Regions from separate parts of the Homo sapiens genome. Here region 2 is linked to region 1. Evidence: fine-mapped expression QTL. Tissue or cell type: whole blood. Region 1 holds a variant in brackets; the other region holds the start of a gene. All regions are shown on one strand. Distances are between the middles of the regions.

Region 1 (8,108 bases):
GAGCAAGTGTCCATGTCTGCACTCCCACTGATGTGTCAGTTTTAAGATGAAGAAGCCCAGAGATGTGATTTCCTGGTAGTCCGACCCAATGTGAGAATTGCACTTTTTCACAGCTTGCCTATTAGGTATGGTAGAAACTTTTTATTAATTTAGATAACAAAATTTATAGACTACCCTGTGTAGCAGGCCATATTTGATATGCCCTGACAGCACAGAGATGACTAAGACAGAAGGTCATCTTCTAGGACTCTCCTGAGAGAAGGGGTGTTGGTGGAGGCAGGGAGGAGCAGACTGCAGAGACACAATCCCGCAGCAATGATAAGTCATTCAGTAGACACAGGCCAGGCCAGGGGTCATGAAGACTGGCAGGGCATGGAAGGGTGGGAAGGACCGCTCTGGGAGGCAGGAGCAGTTGGTATTTTAGGCCACGTCTCATGGGGTGGGGTAGAGGATGGGCGTAATCAAAGCTGGAGCAGTGATTCCTGTACAGAGGAGTCCACAGGAAGCTCCCGTGCGTGGCATAAGACCAGGTGGCTATGGAAGAGTTGCAGAGGTGCCGGCCATGTGGCTGCAGCCACAGCACTGACTCCCAGCATGTGGGCTTGCTTTCTCTCAATCCACTGCCTGATGCATATTTTTGCCGTCTGAAAACTGGTCTCTGTTATAGCTTTCATTCTTTTAAAACTACTCATTTGTTACCAACGATCTACTCGTCACTTCTTCTGTCAATCGGGTCCTCATTTGCCCTTTGCGTGACTCTCTTTCCCGGCTCTCCACTTTTGCTAGGCTTGCCCACTGTGGCCTCCAGGAGGCAGCATGATGCAGTGGAAAAAGGGGATGAAGTGGTGGCTCTGGAGTAGAGGCCTGAATTGGAATCTGGCTTAGTTCATTTTCTGTTGCTATAATGGAATATCAGAGACTGGGTAATTTATAAAGAAGAGATTTATTTCTTACAGTTCTGGAGGCTGGAAAGTCCAAGATTGAGGGGCTGGCATCTGGTGAGGACCTTTGTGCTACATCCTCCCTGGCAAAAGGTGGAAGGGCAAGAGAGCATGAGAGAACAAGAGATCAAACTTGCAGCCTAATATTGTGGCTTTTTATCACTGGCATTAATCCATTCAGGAAGGAAGGGCCCTCATGACTCAGACACTTCCTGTTAGGACCCACCTCCCAATAGTTGCATTGGGGATTAAGTCTCTAACACACGAACTTTGGAGGACATGTGCAACTACAGGAGAACCCCAGCTCTGTCATCTATTAACTGTGAGGTCCTTAGCAAGGCACCTCAGTGGTAATCTGTATAATGGGCATAGTCAGAACATCACAGGATTGGGAGGCCTAAGTGAGACACTGTGAAGGTGCTGGGGTGAGCAGCATACTCCTTATCTGGATTAGCTCTCATCTATTCCAAACCACCTATCCAAGTTCTACCTGCCCTTCTAGGACTAGGGGCAACCTCATCCTCTTCTCTCTTCCAAGAGCTTTGTCTTTATAGAACCCTTTATAGAACCATAGAACCACCCAGAGCTTTCTTTGACCCTCGTTCGTGCTCTGAGGATGCTCACCCAGCATCACACTCAGTGACGCCGGTCTTGCTCTAGAGATGCCTTCAGCCTGGTGGGAGAGGCCAGACCCATGTCCCACAGACACTCCTCACCTGGGCCAATGTGATCACTTACCCATGTCTGTATGGGGCACAGGCAGGAATCTCAATCCTCTTAAAAAGTGATTAGAAGAACACTCATATGAGCTTTGCTGTCCTCAGCACTCCTGCAGAAGAGCTTCATTCAAGGTCCCACAGATGTATTTGTTCACAGAGCACACTCAGTCCCAGCCTCCAACCTCTCCTTAAGGCCCACCCCTAAGGGAAGGAGCAGCCCAAATATATCCTTGCCTCTTCTCTTCTGCAAGAGAAGGCCAGGGATGAAGATGTCTCAAGCCATCTAAGAAATGCTTTGCTTCCCGCATCTTTTCTAAATCGACTGTTAGAACATCCTGGGCTGTGTGCAGGGAGGCCTGAATGGGCTGAGGCCAGAAAGCTGAGCCAGGTGAGCAAGTGTTATCCCTGCGTAAGAGCCAAAATGCTGACTGCTAGAATCAAGTTACAAGCCTGGTGAAACAGTGCAGGGACTGAGATACCACAGGGTCCTCTGCTACACTAAAGAGAAGAGAAATGAAAGGAAAAAAGGAAAAACAAGTTTGCTATCCTCCTTTAGGTACCATTTTATAGAGAATCCACCATATGCCAGGCAACATACTAAATGCTATATGCATGACCTCATTTTATCTCCATTAAAAAAAAAATGAGGAGCTGGGGGACTCAGGGAGGTGAAGTGAAGTCTTATGTCACAAACCTAACAAATGACAGATCTGGGATTTGAACCCAGGTCTTCATTTACTGCGTACAAGAGGAAATAGCCTTTTTGGAAAAGAAGCAATGAGACACGGATGCAGGAGATAGCATGGTGGGGTTTTAAAAATAATTATTTTTACAAATTCTAAAACATCTCAAACTTCCAAAAAATCTGCAAGTACAAAGAACATTATTTTCCCCTCAACCATCTGACAGTAAACAGACATGATGCCCCTCACCCCCAGATACCTCAGTGTCTCCAGTACAAACAAGGACACTCTCTTACTTCTTCCCAGTACAACCACTGAAATCAGAAAATTAACAGTGGCATCTTACTCCCAGCTAATCTTCAGACCTCATTCAAGTTGTGCAAATTGTCTCAACAATGTCTTTTATAACAAAAACATCCAATTCAGAATCAGATGTTGTGTCCAATTGTCATGTCTCTTCAGTCTCCTTTAATCTGAAATTGCTTTTTTTTTTTGCTCTTTTTTAAAAATTATTTTAGACACGAGGTCTCGTTTTTTGCACGGGCTGGTCTCAAACTCCTAGCCTCAAACGATCTTCCCAGCTCATCCTCCCAAGGTGCTGGGATCACAGGTGTGAGCTACGGCACCCAGCCTGTTTGTTTTGAATATAATGTAGGATGAAGAAAAATCAAGCCTTTGGTGGTCCGTGTCTCTCCAAAGGTTGAGTGGAGAAGCGTATGGTGAGAGGCCCTTGGTGGCCATGGACATCAGGCCACACAAGCCACAGAGGGCTTGTGGAGATGCTTATGGCTGGGAACAGACTAGGAACAAACACGGGTGTGGTCAAAGCTCAATCGCTGAGCACTCGGTAACTCTGCAGGAAGTTAAAACTTTCACAAAGACCATCCATGTGGTTGACTGGGACATACAGGCAGAGCT[G/C]CTTCTGGAAAATGGATTTCTTCCACTGTTTGTCCATTTTAGTCTAATCCCTAATGAAACAGAATGAACTTCAGTCTCTTGAAATCTGATTCTTCCACCTATGAAAAAAGCAATGAGAAAGGTGGCTTTTCACTTTAAAAGAGAGACTTTGAGCCGAGTCTAACTCAGGAGAACTGCTCAAATTGTACCCTCTCTTGCCCAACACAGAGATCAGGCCAGACCAGGTCAGAAATGCTGGTAAAACATTTATTTCAAAAATTCATTTGGTTTTCAGATGATAAATAGGAATTAAGAATGAGTATCTTTCTTAGGCTCTAAAAACCAGAAATAAGACACAATTTCATACGTGCAGACTTTTGAAATATGGAGTAACATTTAAAATAACAGATAAAAGAAAAGCTCTGAATGTTACTCTTTATTCTGGTAGGTATGATTTACCCAGTATTGTTTACATGCCTTGATTTAGTATCAGTGAGTATCTCCTGTATGCAAGGCGCTCAGAGCCATGATTCCTAGCTTCTAACATCCGATTTCTAGGCCTCTCATGCAGATGCCAATAAAGGATCTGTGTACAGCCCTGTGCTTACGGCCTATGTATCTATTAGCTCTTCCCCTTGGGCTAACAGCACTCCTTGTCTGGAGCTTGGCTTTTCCCCTCTGAGAAGTCACTTGCTGTGATGTAGAAGCTATGCCAAAGCACAGTAACTCATTCAGCACTTACCAATAAGTTGGCAGCAAATCAGAGCCAAATCTTTCATCAGGGGGCTTTAGGATTTGAGCGGAGGGACATCTCATTGTCCTTAGGGAATGATAATGCCATGAGGGATTTCCTCTAGGAGAAAAAGGAATATTTCTGATCCATGATCAACTGTCACTGCAGTATGTGGTTCTCAAGATTGAGTCAATTTAGGGGAGGCAGCAATATTGTCAGCCCACTCTAGGCCAGGGAATATGTGTCTTCTCTGCCATACCTCAATGTGTCTAGAGAAGGTGAATTCACATAACTTAATGGCTGGGTTTGGTTCATTAACAAAATAATTTCTTTCCAGCAAATGAAGTTAATGCAGAAATGGAGAGTTAATGTATGGCAATGTTTTACTGAGCAGTTTAAAAGAAGCTTTTAAAAATTATTCACTAGAAGATTTCCAGAAGAAAAGAATCATTAAGTAGCTAAGAACTCCATCCTCAATGGCTAGCACACTATTTGGCTCATTGATGGTCTTTAATGGAGTTTTAGTGCAAGAATTACAGAAGGAGCAACTGTACGTTGGCACATCCAAGCCTGCTTTGGGACAGCCCAGTGCCTCTCCATCCTGGCTCTGGAGAGGAGGAGCCTGCAGGGAGCTTATAACCTGGGAGGCTAAGGCTCAGCATAGAACTTGCTGGTTGTCCTGTGGCAGGAGGCACAGTTGGGGTCCTTCAACAATTCTTTATCTGGTTAGCTGACCAGAGTAATGTCTGGTGAACTTTATTCTCTGTCTAGTGCAGGTACATTAGACGTCACATTGATGATCTCAGCCAAGATCTGTGCTAAGTTAGCCTGGGCTCATCTTCATCTTCTGTCTTACAGGAGACCCAGGTTCACTTCCTGCTCCTGGAACATGAGTGTATCCTTGTCATAATCTCATACACTTCACATATCTAACTATACTCTTAACATTCACTGATTTATTTTACATTTTCTAGTAGGTATTTCATAATTTCCTCCAGAGGAGCCTATTCTACAATGTAACTCAATTAAAATCAAGTACATGTAGATTTTTTTTTCATCTGCAAAGATCCTGCCTACCAAAATAAACCATATGGTGCCACTGGGCATCTTGTGCAAACACAAGACTCTGTGTAGATCACTGTGTTCCCTGAGTCTTGGAAAATGTATGGTTAAACCTATGGAATGATTCATCAACTGTGTTTACTTCAGCCTATAACATGGCGAGCGGAGAGTTGGTTTGTAAGACAAAGGTTCTCACTTTCTTCATTTCTAATATCAGTCTTCAAAATTAAACATTTACCTACTAAGTCTAGTACACTGACTGCCTCCATGTACTGGCAGTGGGGGCTTGTTCCTCAGGCCAATTTACATTTTGGACAAGTCATCCTTTAGGGAGTCAGCAATCATGTCTGCCATTTCCTGGTTAAAATGGGTGATGAAAGCATGAGGTATGTTTTTCTCACAGAGTCGAATGTCTCCTTCTGGAAAATCCTTCTTAATGTCTTCATAGTACTCTTTTGGACACCAAGGATCTATAGTACCATAATAAAATGTAAGCTGAAAGACAAGACAAAAACCTTTTATTAGAAAACACGTTCCCTTCCTGACACAGATATGACACCAGCAGCCGGCAGTGCTCTGAGGACAGCACCTACGCCTGACCCTGGGAGCTAGTCCCTAAGCTCTCTCCAGAGTGTGGCTCTCTCAAGGCAGCAAGGCTTCACGATGTACAGGAGTGCACTTAGAAGAATTTGGTGGGAAGATCCCCATGCTGGGAGACTCTTGTGTGATAGATCACTCATAATTCACTGAAACGACTTACCAGGAAAGTTTTGTGTACTAAGGTTGGGATGGACACTGGAATGAAGGCCGGTGAGGATGACGAAGACAGTTATTGAGACATAGTCACTGAATGACTAGTGACCAGTTAATAAACTTAGTTGTTTCCAAATAGCCACATGGTAGTCATATGGGATGTATTTGTTGAATGAATACAAACACAGATCAGATAGACTCAGGCTTTCCAATGTAGCTGATGAAATGTGATCAGAATCCTGAGAGAGTTTATGACCTTTCTAAGAAAAGGCTCTATGCAGCCTGTATGTTGATTCAGTGGGGAAGTGCAATAATCATACTTCAATTGACAGCAAGCAGCTGAATGGAGACAGAGCCTCCTCTGTGGCATTACTAAGACCCTGAATGGATATCTACCTAAACCTGCATGTGATATATATGTATATTGCTCTAGGCTGCTGTGTTTCACTGAAAAACTGCTATGTTCTAGTTCTGTTAGTTCTAAAAATAAAGGCAACAAAGCAACATCTTATATTCAGAAGAACAGATAGTGGCAATTTCTACAAAAACCAAGAACTAAATCTTAAGGATCCTTTGACCTCTGTTATCACTGAAAGACAGAGCTATGCCTAGCTCCAGCCCCTAGTTGGCCAGCTGTAGTCACTTGCAGCTTCCCTAATATACCAAATGTGCTCCTTCATTCAGACACTGAATTGCTTACTCATTCCTTTGTTCATCAAATACAAATGGAGCACCTACTTTGTATTAGGAACCTGGAAAATAGAGATAAGACAGTCTTGGGGGGAGGGGAGAAGGGGACCCCATGTATACAAGACAATTTGAGAGCTCAGGTGAGGTGCAGCTGGTCAGAAGTAGTAGGCAGGAAAGATTCCCCAGAGTTGATGCCTCAGTTGAGTCTTCAAGCTGGGGCAGCACACTGTGGGGAGAAGACCAAGCAAACCAAAGCTTGAAAGAGCATGGCATGTGTGGGGAACTGGAATTCCACATGGCTGGAATATAGGGTGGTGGGAGATAAGACTGGAGAGGCAGAGAGGGATGAGGTCATGGACAGCATCTTCTATGCATGCCAAGGAGGTTGCGCTTTATCCCGAAGTCCACAAGGCAAAAAAGACTGCACAGTGAAGTGACATGCTGAGGTCCCTATGTCAGGAAAACCACTCTGGCCACAACGAGAAGAAGGATTGGAGGTGATCAAGTGCTGGGGGAGGAGAGTGCAGGGAAGCAGGCGTTATTGCTCACTGGATAGTTTGAGTGTATCAATTATTAAATCCATGACCTGAATATGGGACAGATGAGACTGATCTTACGAAAACAATGGCCTTCATTACAATAACATGATGCCTTAACCAATATTTAGATGGTTAGTTAAAAACACTTTATAGAGGAAAAAATTTAACATAGTACTCCAGAGAGTAAATTATGAACAAGTAAACCTCAAGTGGCAGACTTACTCTGAATTGCTTCATGGAGGTTTCCTTTTTTTTTTTTTTTTTTTTTTTTTAATTATACTTCAAATTCTGGGACATGTGCAGAGTGTGCAGGTTTGTTACATAGGTATACACGTGCCACGGTGGTTTGCTGTACCCATCAACCCGTCATCTACATTAGGTATTTCTCCTAATGCTATCCCTCCCCTACCCCCCATCCCCTAACAGGCCCCGGTGTGTGATGTTCCCCTCCCTGTGTCCATGTGTTCTCATTGTTCAACTCCCACTTATGAGTGAGAACATGCCATGTCTGGTTTTCTGTTCCTGTGTCAGTTTGCTGAGAATGATGGTTTCCAGCTTCATCCATGTCCCTGCAAAGGACATGAACTCATCCTTTTTTATGACTGCATAGTATTCCAGCTTCATGGAGGTTTTCTTGGTTGTTACCTGGGGTTCCAGTTTTGCACGCTGCAGAGGACCTGCAACTTACAGATTTATCACTTAATTCATTCTTTGCATTCTCCTACTTTTCCTCACTCCAACCATTTCTGGGCATTCCAAAGCCCCTAAAGCCAGAATTCATTTTGCCATGGTTCTTAGCAGAGTAAGAACTTCTTTTGCTTCCTAGAGAATATGAGAGCCTAGCAGTTGCCTAGTTCTTCCTCCTGGTCTCAGCTCTTTCTGTAGCTCTAAAATGCTGCAACCTCACAACCAGTGGGAGACTATTCTTTCCACTAGTAGAAAAACACGTTTCCCCGGATCTCTCAGCAACTACCCTGCTATAGCTTTGCCTTGAAATACTGTCAAGAGTACAAACTATTTGCAGGTATTAATTATCTACCAATAGTGCTGATAACATTAGGCTCTCTCTAAGCTACTCCCTATATTTACCA
Region 2 (8,108 bases), 140 kb after region 1:
AACCACACACTACACTCAAGATGAACTTGCTGAATTATCTTTACTGGAAAAAGGCAATTTGTTTTGCACAACTCCTTTGCAACTGTGACATCAAACTTTCTTGTAATTACACACACAATTTTTTTTTAATGTACCAGAGAGTAGCTTTCAGCTTCTGGACATCAATTAATGCCAAGAATTTCACAAGTGTACAAACTACTTACCTATATTAAATACACTCATTAGAAATAATATATTAATTTCCCTTTGGTTGAGGTATACTTAAAGTGACTTCAGAATTAAGTGCTCAATCTTAAATACATTATGGTAATACTACAAGGGAGAAAATGCTGAAAGCAGAGCAACATTTTAACAAAGAAAAAAGTCCTCGCAAATCAATAAACGTAATCCAGCATATAAACAGAACCAAAGACAAAAACCACATGATTATCTCAATAGATGCAGAAAAGGCCTTTGACAAGATTCAACAGCTCTTCATGCTAAAAACTCTCAATAGATATTGATGGGACGTATCCCAAAATAATAAGAGCTATTTATGACAAACCCACAGCCAATATCATACTGAATGGGCAAAAACTGGAAGCATTCCCTTTGAAAACTGGCACAAGACAGGGATGCCCTCTCTCACCACTCCTATTCAACATAGTGTTGGAAGTTCTGGCCAGGGCAATTAGGCAGCAGAAAGAAATAAAGGGTATTCAATTAGGAAAAGAGGAAGTCAAATTGTCCCTGTTTGCAGATGACATGATTGTATATTCAGAAAACCCCATCGTCTCAGCCCAAAATCTCCTTAAGCTGATAAGCAACTTCAGCAAAGTCTCAAGATACAAAATCAATGTGCAAAAATCACAAGCATTCTTATACACCAATAACAGACAAACAGAGAGCCAAATCATGAGTGAACTCCCATTCACAATTGCTTCAAAGAGAACAAAATACCTAGGAATCCAACTTACAAGGGATGTGAAGGACCTCTTCAAGGAGAACTACAAACCACTGCTCAATGAAATAAAAGAGGACACAAACAAATGGAAGAACATTCCATGCTCATGGATAGGAAGAATCAATATTGTGAAAATGGCCATACTGCCCAAGGTAATTTATAGATTCAATGCCATCCCCATCAAGCTACCAATGACTTTCTTCATGGAATTGGAAAAAACTACTTTAAAGTTCATATGGAACCAAAAAAGAGCCTGCATTGCCAAGTCAGTCCTAAGCAAAAAGAACAAAGCTGGAGGCATCACGCTACCTGACTTCAAACTATACTACAAGGCTACAGTAACCAAAACAGCATGGTACTGGTACCAAAACAGAGATATAGATCAATGGAACAGAACAGAGCCCTCAGAAATAATACCACACATCTACAACTATCTGATCTTTGACAAACCTGACAAAAACAAGAAATGGGGAAAGGATTCCCTACTTAACAAATGGTGCTGGGAAAACTGGCTAGCCATATGTAGAAAGCTGAAACTGGATCCCTTCCTTACACCTTATACAAAAATTAATTCAAGATGGATTAAAGACTTAAATGTTAGACCTAAAACCATAAAAACCCTAGAAGAAAACCTAGGCAATACCATTCAGGACATAGGCATGGGCAAGGACTTCATGTCTAAAACACCAAAAGCAATGGCAACAAAAGCCAAAATTGACAAATGGGATCTAATTTAACTAAAGAGCTTCTGCACAGCAAAAGAAACTACCATCAGAGTGAACAGGCAACCTACAGAATGGGAGAAAATTTTTGCAACCTACTCATCTGACAAAGGGCTAATATCCAGAATCTACAAAGAACTCAAACAAATTTACAAGAAAAAAACAAACAACCCCATCAAAAAGTGGGTGAAGGATATGAACAGACACTTCTCAAAAGAAGACATTTATGCAGACAAAAAACACATGAAAAAATGCTCATCATCACTGGCCATCAGAGAAATGCAAATCAAAACTACAATGAGACATCTTCTCACAGCAGTTAGAATGGTGATCATTAAAAAGTCAGGAAACAACAGGTGCTGGAGAAGATGTGGAGAAACAGGAACACTTTTACACTGTTGGTGGGACTGTAAACTAGCTCAACCATTGTGGAAGTCAGTGTGGCGATTCCTCAGGGATCTAGAACTAGAAATACCATTTGACCCAGCCATCCCATTACTGGGTATATACCCAAAGGAATATAAATCATGCTGCTATAAAGACACATGCACATGTATGTTTATTGCAGCACTACTTACAATAGCAAAGACTTGGAACCAACCCAAACGTCCAACAATGATAGACTGGATTAAGAAAATGTGGCACATATACACCATGGGATACTATGCAGCCATAAAAAAGAATGAGTTCATGTCCTTTGTAGGGACATGGATGAAGCTGGAAACCATCATTCTCAGCAAACTATCGCAAGGACAAAAAACCAAACACCACATGTTCTCACTCATAGGTGGGAATTGAACAATGAGAACACTTGGACACAGGAAGGGGGAGATCACACACCGGGGCCTGTTGTGGGGTGGGGTGAGTGGGGAGGGATAGCATTAGGAGATATACCTAATGTAAATGACAAGTTAATGGGTGCAGCACACCAACATGGCACATGTATACATATGTAACAAACCTGCACGTTGTGCATATGTACCCTAGAACTTAAAGTATAATTTTAAAAAAATTAAAAAAAAGAAAGAAAAAATCCTCCAGTCTGAAGGCATTAAGTTATCAAAAAGCAAAATATTAAAATATAAAATTTTAGATGGGCACCCACTGTGTTGCCCTGATTATCCCCCTAGAATGCTACATGCTGGAAAGAGGGGCCTTAGCAGGTTTCTAAGTCTTTAACCTTCAGGTGGAAAAATGGGGAAACACACAAGAGACACTCCTACGTATAGTTTCAGAAAGAAGTTTAATTAAAAAACAGCTTTTGAGAATAAACATTCTGGAGATGCTTCTAAATCTTCTGGGTTTCTTTTGGTTGTATCTCTTTCTCCATACAGATTTGTTCTTTCAACTCAAGGACTATCAACTCTTTTTTTTTTTTTGAGACTGAGTCTCACTTTGTCGCCCAGGCTAGAGTGCAGTGGCGCCATCTCGGCTCACTGCAAGCTCCACCTCCCGGGTTCACGCCATTCTCCTGCTTCAGTCTCCCGAGTAGCTGGGACTACAGGCGCCCGCCACCACGCCCGGCTAATTTATTTATTTATGTATTTATTTTTGTATTTTTAGTAAAGATGGGGTTTCACCGTGTTAGCCAGGATGGTCTCGATCTCCTGACCTCCTGATCCGCCCGCCTCGGGGTCCCAAAGTGCTGGGATTACAGGCGTGAGCCACGGCGCCCGGCCAGGACTATCAACTCTTGTGTTTGGTACACAGGACACAAAGCAGGTGTCCGGTAACTACTTGCGAGGGAAGATACGAATTAACCAAGGAATAAAGTGTTCCAATCTGCATTCTGTCTTGCGTGGGGAACAAAACCAAACTAAGACCCAAGGATGAGGGTTTACGGTTAAGGTCTTCAGCGTGAATAAAAGGCGGCGTGAGCACTAAACGCCGGGGGCAAAGAACACTCCCGGCCCAGAGTTTGACCCCTCCTAGCGAGTTCTTCCCGGCCAGCTGCCCAACTTTTTGGCCTCTACTCCTCCGCGGGGGCACCATAAGACTCCCTACAGGTGGGCTACACTTAGGGGTTCAAATGCTGCATTACCGCGCTCGGGTGAGCGACTGCCCGGCCTGCAACTCAAGGGACTCCCAGGCCAAGTGGCTCCGAACTCGCGAGCTGTCGGAACAGTATTATTTTTGCTGCTACGGGCCATCTGGCCCAGGGCAACAGGGGCTCTGCGAGGAACCATAGAGAAGAAGGGGCGCCAGATCCCGCGTGCCTGCCCACCCGTCCTTCCTTTGGGCAGTCACCCTGAGCTCGGCAAGCTGTACCTCACCTGTCCACCTGGAAGGCTGCCCGCTCTCCCTGAGGGTCCTGGGAAGGCGGCACGAGACCGGAAGTGCCCCCCTCAGGTGACGTCACAGTACCGCGCCGGAGCTGATCCGGGAAGCCGATGTCAGCCTGGCGCGCGGCGCACAGCTGGCTGGGAGATTTCTTACTGGCTTGGAGCCGGTGGTCCAGATCAGAGAGACCTCTTGGAGGGTGTCGGGGTTTTCCTTTCTTTTTCATTTGAATTTTATCCGCCTTTTATTTTCTGTCATCCTTGATGTGCTTCTGGCTTCTGGCTTCCCTTTCCTTCTCTCTCATTTGTTCCATGTCTGCCCCTCTTTTCTCCCTCTTCCCATTTCCCTCTTTCTGCGTTACTAGTTGCATATCTTCCCCACATACACAGGAAAGTTGATTCTCATTTGATCATGTTCATAAGCATGATCAATAAAGTATTTTTTTAATTAAGGTGTTGCCAACTTTAAGAAAATTCAGAGAATAATATTAAGTATAGAGTTTATTTGGGCTCAGTGCTTGAGAATGGCCACTCAGGAGCTTAGATTCAAGTTGCCTTGAATATACACTCCAATTAGCAGCAGTCGGAGTAGGTTTTTTTTTTTTTTTTTTTTTTTTTTTGAGACGGAGTCTTGCTCTGTCGCCCAGGCCGGACTGCGGACCGCAGTGGCGCAATCTCGGCTCACTGAAAGCTCCGCTTCCCGGGTTCACGCCATTCTCCTGCCTCAGCCTCCCGAGTAGCTGGGACTACAGGCGCCCGCCACCGCGCCCGGCTAATTTTTTGTATTTTTAGTAGAGACGGGGTTTCACCTTGTTAGCCAGGATGGTCTCGATCTCCTGACCTCATGATCCACCCGCCTCGGCCTCCCAAAGTGCTGGGATTACAGGCGTGAGCCGGTTTTTAAGGAAAGGAGAGGAGGCAGAGCTTAACTTGTTTACCAAGAATTTATATTTAAAAAACTTAAGCTATTGACTGGCTATGCTTTCTTCCTTGTATCACAAATTCCAGGAACATAAAGATAATGGGTGAGGCAGCTAATAAAGAACAAAATGCCTTTAACAATTGCCCTAAGGCATGGGAAGGCGTGGCGGAAGCCAGTATTCACTTCTGTCCGGGTCTAATAAATTTTGCATACCTCACATAGCTCAGACAGCTCTGGGCTATTTTTCTTTTCTTAGTATGTACTTTTTTTAGACATAATACTGTTGTACACAATAATCTACAGTACAGTGTAAATATAAATTTTATATGCACTGGGAAACCAAAAAAATTCTGTGAACTGCCTTATTGTGATGTTTGCTTTATTGTGGTAGTATGGAACTGAACCCCCAATATCTTCAAAGTATGCTTGGATTTAAAAAAGAGGTTTACTTAGCTCATGGTTCTGCACATTGGAAAGCTCAAGGGGCATAGTGTGAGCATCTGCTCAGTTCTGGTTAGAGTTTTTTGTGCAGTGTCACAACATGGTAGAAGGTCAAAGGGGAAGCTGATACATGTGAAAACAGACCAAACAGGAGGTGGAAAACAACCCACTCTCTCAGGGACTCTCTCTTTTCCAATCTCTCAAGAGCTGTTATCAAACCAAACTGGAGTCCAATTGCCTGTGCAGCAAGACCAAACACTGACATCAGGATTATAGTGAAAGAAAGTGAGGCATTTATTGTAGGGTCCCAAGCAAGGAGAACTGGTCAGTTAGTGCTTAAGTCTTGAACTCCCTAATTGTTTATAGGTAAGGGTTTTTAAATGCAGGGGTGTCAGAGGTTATAGGCAAAGTCATAAATCAATATATGGAGGTTATATATTGGCTTAACCTAAAAATGCAGTGAGGTAGGATGCAGGAATTGGACACCAGACCAAATTGAGGACTAGCTAAAACAGGGGCAGGGAGGAAGCAGCTTTCCATATTAATGCCCCTTTCCATGGCAACAACCTGACAACCCAGAGGTTACCACCCTTTTCCTAGAAATTTCTGCATAATTCACCCCTTAATTTGCCTGTAATTAAAAATGATTATAAATATGACAGAAGAACTGCCTTTCAGATGCTACTCTGGACACACTGCCTATGGGGTAGCCCTGCTCTGCAAGGAGCAGTATCTCTGCTGCTTCTGGACACTACTACTTCAGTAAAAGTTGCTATTTAACACCACCGGCTCACCCTTGAATTCTTTCTTGGCGAAGCTAAGAACTCTACTGGGCAAATCCCCAATTTGGGGCTTGCCTGCCGTGCATTGGCGGGGCATCTCAAAGAGGGGGGCCCACAGGTCATAGGTGGAATTTAAGGATTTTCTGATTTGTGATTTGTTAAGAAGGTGAAACTCTCTAAAAATTTGATATCAGCAGAAAAGGATATTAGCTTGGGCTCATGGGCATGGCCTCCTTTAAGCACCTCAAGAAGAAATTTAGAACAAAGAATAGTAGTCAGAGTTTAGCCTTCAATTCTCCCTTATTTGAGGCCTGTGTGCCAGTGGATCCATTTAGTGGGGATCTGGGTTTCTGAAAAACAACTTGGGACATATGTTAAGATGTTACCTTTAGTTTTTATAGGAAATACAATATCCCGTGACATTAATTTTTTGGCTATTGTTTTAAGCTCTTATTATCTTCTTGCTTTTAAGTTTGTTTTGTTTTTGTTTTTGTTTTTAGGACTAGCTAGATGTCTGGAATTTTCTTTAAGGAAGTCAAGATTTTTTTTTATTTTCATCTTTTGGTGGAGAGTGCCCTGCAAGCCCTTAAGAGGGGTCTCTGCTGTGTCTCAGAACAAGAACTGACTTTGGCGAGAACAGCAACAATCTCTTCATGAGGGATCCACCCCATGACCCCAACACCTCCCCATAGGCCCCACTTCTGAACATCACCACACTGGGGACCAAATTTCAGCATGAGTCTTTTTGGGGACAAACTATATCCAAACCATAGCAACACATATTGTGATAAGAAATAAACCTTTGTTGCTTAAGGCTTTGGAGGTTGTTGCTGTTGTTTCTTACCACAGTGCCACACAGCCTGTCCAGATTGATGCAGAGGGACAGCCACACAGAGATTCTTTTTTCTCCCTCTTTCGATTTTAATTCCTAATACCCGGGGAAGAATTTCTGATTGGCTCAGCTCAGGTCTTGTCCTAGTCCATTTTCTGTTGCTTATAGTAGAATACCAGAAACTGGCTAATTTGTAAAGAAAAAATTATTTCTTACAGTTATGGAGGCTGAGAAGTCCCAGGTCGAGGGGCTATACCTGGTGAAAGACTCTCTGAAGAGTCTTAAGGCAGCACAGGGCCTCACTTGTCCAGGAGGCTGAGTGTGCTAGCTCAGGTTTCTCTTTCTTTTCTTGGAAAGCCACCAGTTCCCCTCACATGATACCCCTTAATCTAATTCATTAACCTATTGATCCATTAATCTATGAAGGAATTAATCTATCCATGAGGGCCGAGCCCTCCTGATTCAATCACCCCATAAAGGTCCCATCTTTTAATACTCCCCTTTGGGGATTAAATTTTAACATGAGCTCATAAATATATACACTTACTATGTACCCACAAAAATAAAAAACAAAACACATTATTTAAAATGAAATAAATTTCAACATGAATGCTATGGTTTGGATATGGTTTGTTTTGGCCCCCACCAAGTCTCAGATTGAAATGTGGTCCCCAGTATTGGAGATGGGGCCTGGTGGGTAGTGTCTGGGTTGTGGGTTGTGGGTATGGATCCCTCATAATGGCTTGGTGCCATGCTCGCAAGAGTGAATGAGTTCTTGCTCTGTTGCTTCCAATGAGAGCTGGTTGCTAAAAGAGCTGGCACCCCCTCCCTTCTCTCTCTTGCTTTCTATTGCTGTGCAGTTTCTACATACCAGTTCTCCTTCATTTTCCACCATAAATAGAAGCAGCCTGAGGTCTTCACCAGAGGCAGATGCCAGCACCGTGCTTCTGGTACAGCCTACAGAGGTATGAGCCAAACAAACCTCTTTTCTTTATAAATTACATAACCTCAGGTATTCCTATAAAGCAACACAAACAGACTACAACAATGAGTTTTGGAGGGGACAAATATTCAAACCCAGTACCAATTTTCTGTCTTAGCCCATTTACTGTTGCTTATAACAGAATACCTAAAACTGGGTAATTTATACATTTTATTTTATTTAATTTCATTTTCATTTTTCACTG

The links. PIP is the estimated chance that this variant, and not a neighbour inherited with it, causes the effect.
Region 2: LDAH starts here. The variant in region 1 is fine-mapped to the expression of LDAH in whole blood (INTERVAL, PIP above 0.99).

The regions. Positions count from the first base shown.
Region 1 is chr2:20,681,565-20,689,672 of GRCh38, forward strand. LDAH (lipid droplet associated hydrolase) reads right to left here. Exons shown (of 7, transcript NM_021925.4): 7 at 2,467-5,530. The coding sequence ends at 5,339. Among named protein-coding and RNA genes, the nearest start is that of GDF7, 18 kb to the left of the region's middle. The variant G/C (reference allele first, on the strand shown) is at 3,262.
Region 2 is chr2:20,819,099-20,827,206 of GRCh38, forward strand. It overlaps LDAH (lipid droplet associated hydrolase), which reads right to left and starts at 4,003. Exons shown (of 7, transcript NM_021925.4): 1 at 3,939-4,003. RefSeq lists enhancers at 2,879-3,704, 3,507-3,576, 3,797-4,186.